Regions from separate parts of the Homo sapiens genome. Here region 1 is linked to region 2. Evidence: fine-mapped expression QTL. Tissue or cell type: whole blood. Region 2 holds a variant in brackets; the other region holds the start of a gene. All regions are shown on one strand. Distances are from middle to middle.

Region 1 (2,611 bases), 45 kb after region 2:
GCGGGCGCCTGTAGTCCCAGCTACTCGGGAGGCTGAGGTGGGAGGATCACCTGAGCCTGGGAGGCAGAGGTTGCAATGAGCAGAGATTGTGTCATTCCACTCCAGCCTGGGAGACAAGAGCGAGATACCGTCTCGAAAAAATATATATATATTTTATATATAATATTTATATGTATATTATATATATATGTATATTTTATATATATATATATATATATATATATAAAATTAGCTGGGCGTGGTGGCGGCTGCCTGTAGTCCCAGCTACTCAGGAGGCTGAGGTGGGAGGATCACCTGAGCCCGGGAGGTCGAGGCTGCAGTGAGCAGTGATGACGGCACTGCAAACATGATGATGAACAACTCGGGCACCAGACACTGTTCGCCACAACTAAGAAAGCCAAATAATACCTACTTTCTTATTCTCTTTCCTGTGTTCGAAAACATACATAACACGAAGTAATGCTTTAAAAAGGAATAGCAAGTACAAATATGTTAGACTATCTTTTCTAAGTAGTTTGCTTCAACTTTTTTTTGGAGGACATGAGGAGTGGAAGAGGAAACTAATGGGAGTCGGAAAGTGGGCTCTAGTTATTTTTACAAGCGTATTTATTTTGTAAGTCAACTAGATGGAGGCGAAGAAAGACGTTCCAGCGTTCGGGTTCACTTCACACACACCCCAGCACTTCTTTGGGGTTCACTTTAAACACACACACACCCCAACACTTCTCTCGGGTTCACTTTAAACACACACACACCCCAACACTTCTTTCGGGTCCACTTTAAACACACGCTCCCCAACACTTCTTTCGAAAAAACTCCAGGGCTGAGACCGACCCTTCCTGACAATGCAGCTCGTCCAGACACCCCTGCTACTCTGATCTGTGAAGAGCTCGCGCTAACGTTCCCGTCTTAGCAGGTCCATTCGGCACCCCAAATCCGAAAGGGCCTGCAGAAACCGGGGCGGGGCAAGGGTCTACCTCCGCCGTGGCAGAAACTGATTTTCCTCAGAAAGCCTAAAAAATCATCCATCAATCACTCCGGCCCCCTTCCCCGAGAGATGCCGCCGCCCGCCGCCTCTCCCCAGGCTCTGGGTCTGGCGCAGGCCCGGAGGGCTGGCGCCGTCGGCTTCTCCCCGTTACCCGGGTCCGGACCCGGCGCCTACGGGACGAGCTGCTGTAACTCCCCCGCATCCGCCTCCCCCGGCCGGGGCGGCTCCCGGCGCCGGGTCTCCGACGGGCAGAGACGCCCCCCGCCCCGCTCACCCGCCCGGGTGGTGTCCGTCAGGTCGTGGTTGGCCGCTCCCCGGGGAAACTCCCTCAGTTTCCGGCCGCTCAGGCTCAGCACCCCAGTGACCGCCGCCTCCTCCAGGGCTCGATCGAGAGAGCGGCTCCACGAGCCCGGGCCAAAACCAGGGCCTGCCCCGGAGCTTGGGCCGCAGTGAACACCAGGGAGGTTACCTCCCGACGCTACCGTGCCAGAGTACTCGGCAGCCGCTGCCACAGCGACCAAGCCCGCGGCCGCCATTTCCCAGCCGACAACACTCGGGCCCGCCAGCTCAGCGCATGCGCGGCCGGACCGCTGGGTGGGCGGAGAAAGGGGCTCACGGACCGACCCCGGACGGTTCCCGTGATGGGCAGCACCGTGGTGCCCCCCGGCGCAGCCAGGCGCTTGCCCCCGCCCACATGATGCGCTTTTCAAGGGAAGTTAAAACGGACCTCACAAATCCAGAGCAGCCCCCTACTCTAACCTCCCAGGGGCATTTCTAAAATGCCTCTACAAAAACATCTTTCAGGCAACGCTCCGCATCAAAACTTCTCCGCCTTGCTCCCTCAGTAGTGGAGGAGTCGACTAAGCATTAAATTAAGAATTTTTTTTTTTTGAGACAGAGTCTCGCTCTGTCGCCCAGGCTGGAGTGCAGTGGCGCGATCTCGGCTCACTGCAACCTCTGCTTCCTGGGTTCAAGCTATTCTCCTGCCTCAGGCTCCCGAGTAGCTGGGACTACAGGCACGCACCACCACACCCGGTTAATTTTTGTATTTTTAGTAGAGACGGGGTTTCACCATGTTGGCCAGGATGGTCTCGATCTCCTGACCTCAAGTGATCCGCCCGCCTCTGCCTCCCAAAGTGCTGGGATTACAGGCGTGACCTACCGCGCCCGGCAAGGAATCTTTCTTAACACTGCTGCTGCAGAAACTTGGATGGTGAGAGGAGCGGACCCTCTGAGATACGACCTAAACCGTTTCCCAACTTCATTGTATTACCAGATGATCTAAATCAAGGTTTGGTGGACTTACTATGGTTGCTGGAGAGAAAACAAACAAACAAACGTGCTAATTGGGCTCAAAATTCTCATTAAAAACGTATTATTTTATATCATCCATCCCTTTTATAAAATAGCTTTTCTTAATGAAAATACAACAAATATCTTCAATAGTACTTGTACTTTTGGCAAGATTTTATTGTTGGATAAAGCAAGATTATAGTAGTATTAAAATCTAAAATGTTGGTCTGGAACCAAAATTGAGGAACAGAAAATGATCTCACTGTAATCTAAATGTGGGAATTAAAGGTAGAACCGAAGAGATGCTCTAAATTGAAACCACTCAAGAAA
Region 2 (2,611 bases):
CACAAATCTCTCCTAGGACGCTGTACCAGTGGCTTACCACCCTAGTTTTTTTTTTTTGGATACAGAATCTTGCTCTGTCACCTAGGCTGGAGTGCAGTAGCACAATCTCGGCTCACTGCAATGTCCGCTGCCCAGGTTCAAGTGACTCTCGTGCCTCAGCCTCCCGAGTGGCTGGGATTACAGGCACCTGCCATGACACCCAGCTAAGTTTTTTTTTTTTAATATATATTTTTAGTAGAGACAGCGTTTCTTCATGTTGGCCAGTCTGGTCTCAAACTCCTGACCTCAAGTGATCCACCTGCCTTGGCCTCCCACAGTGCTGGGATTACAGGTGTGAGCCACCATGTCCAGCCCCATCCTAGTTTTATGATACTGCAATTATCTAAAATTATTCTAAGAGGCACACGAAATTTTCATGACAAAATGAATGTGACATTGGTTTAATTAAAAAAAAAATCATACCATGTTCAGACAGGAATGGTCTATGTATGTGACAAGTATTATAATAAAATTAAATAATAGTAGAGTGTTTAACACCTCACATAGGTTAGTTTTTAACATTCCATTTTTAGATAGTGTTCAGGAAAATAAAAAGATACTTCACTGGTTGTGAAACCATCTAAAATAATGCTGCCTCATCACATTTTCACAGATGCTAAATTTTACGAAAGCTTTATGACACAGAAGTCATAAAGACTACCATACGTAACAGGCAGCCAGAATTTTAAAAATATTATTACAAAACAATACAATGAATTAAAGAAATACTATTTTTTTATAGTAGTATAATAGGCATTTTCACTTTTAGTAGAGATACTCCATTTATACAGCCTAAGTAACCATAACATGATCAAAGAGAAAGACCAGGAAAAAAGAAAATGAATTCCTTTAAGGATTATAATGTGTCATTTTTAATTTTATTGCAAAATAGTTAGTTGCCCCTTGCTCCAGCAGCCTCAACAAGTAGTTTCATCAGTCACCTAGTACACTGCCATCTCTGGGCTGTAGGACTTTGACTTATCTAATTTTATCCAACTTTAAATACAAGT[A/G]TGTCTCTTTACCAACAAAAAATACGGTGTTCAAAAGTATTCAGATAGGAAAAACCAAGGCCCTTTTTTTAAAAAAAAGAATGATAATACTGGCTGGGTGCGGTGGCTCACACCTGTAATCCCAGCACTTTGGGAGGCTGAGGCGGGCAGATCACCCGAGGTCAGGAGTTTGAGACCAGCCTGGCCAACATGGTGAAACCCCGTCTCTACTAAAAATATAAAAATTAGCCGGGCATGGTGGCAGGTGCCTGTAATCCCAGCTACTCGGGAGGCTGAGGAAGGACAATCACTTGAACCTGGGAGGCAGAGGCTGCAGTAAGCCGAGATCGTGCCAAGGCACACCAGCCTGGGCGACAGAGTGACTCTGCTTCATTAAATAAAGAATGATAATATCACTCTACAACATGTCCCACTTGAAATGATTATTCTCTATTTCTTTTTTTTTCTTTCCTTTTAGCTGTCTCAGACCAAAGAGATTCTTCTCTATTTCTAAAAGGATAATACATCATTCTCTAAAAGGGCCCAAGTGTTTCTCAAATAATCACTGCTCAGAGCCTGAAACCAGCTCCAGACATCAACATCACATCCACTAAAGTGAAGCCATTTTATTATGCTGACAAGATAGACTGAAGAATGCTATTCTATCTGAGACCCTTGGGGAATTGGCAGAGATTCTGTAGTGGGCTGAATGCACATTTGTTTTCTAAGGCAATTCAATGCTCCACTTAAGAGATACCCAAGAACTTTAATAGCAAACAATTTACATTCTGTGTGACTTAGCACAAAAGCTCCAATATAATTCAGCATATTATAAAAATTCTATGGTTAAGTCTGCATGTTGCCACAAAAGTCAACTTTTTGGTTTAACTGTTAATTAACTACTGACCAAACTATGATTTATCAGTTAGTAACAATAAAAAAGCAATAAAAACAACAATGAAAAGCATCACTGTATTTTTCTTTGTACTTTCTTCCAAGGCCTTAACAGTACCTAGACTTCTTTTATTCCTCCTGCAAAATTCTGAAATCTTTCTTCTTGTTTGAAAAATAAACCTAAAGCCTACTTGAGGCTGCTGTCTGAGTTTTCTGAATAAATCTGAAAAACTCAGGACTGAAATCAGAAGTGAACATAATGAAAACAATTAGGCTTCAGTCAACAAATCACTGATATAACAAAACTTTATACTATTATGAATTATTTTTATGAAGGGATAGCAACATATTTAGGCTTCAATCTGTGTACTACCTCATGAGAGATTCGCCGCTGTTCAATATACGCCATAAACTGTGAACTAAGGCTGTCTGGGTCTGGTCCCTTGGGCTGTCTCACCTCGGCCTCCTCTTCCTCTGCGGTGCAGCTGTCTATGTAGTCAATCTGATCCAGATCATGTTCCACTGTATACACCACACACACACCCACACACACACACACACCAGAAAAAAACATTCAAATTAGATAGCCAATAAAAGACATTTACTTATTTCCTTTTCCCCATGATTTTCTATTTTGAAAGTGGGAGGGATGATAAAAACTTTAAATTACTTAAGTCTTTTTTTTTTTT

What was found. PIP is the estimated chance that this variant, and not a neighbour inherited with it, causes the effect.
Region 1: it holds the start of LRCH3, and the variant in region 2 is fine-mapped to the expression of LRCH3 in whole blood (INTERVAL, PIP above 0.99).

The regions. Positions count from the first base shown.
Region 1 is chr3:197,790,192-197,792,802 of GRCh38, reverse strand. LRCH3 (leucine rich repeats and calponin homology domain containing 3) reads right to left here and starts at 1,549. Exons shown (of 21, transcript NM_001365715.1): 1 at 1,263-1,549. The coding sequence starts at 1,524. RefSeq lists a silencer at 1,052-1,321 and enhancers at 1,362-1,561, 1,175-1,889.
Region 2 is chr3:197,835,507-197,838,117 of GRCh38, reverse strand. LRCH3 (leucine rich repeats and calponin homology domain containing 3) reads right to left here. Exons shown (of 21, transcript NM_001365715.1): 9 at 2,296-2,444. All of the region lies in intron 1 of LOC105374310 (a long non-coding RNA gene), which reads left to right. Among named protein-coding and RNA genes, the nearest start is that of LRCH3, 46 kb to the right of the region's middle. The variant A/G (reference allele first, on the strand shown) is at 1,050.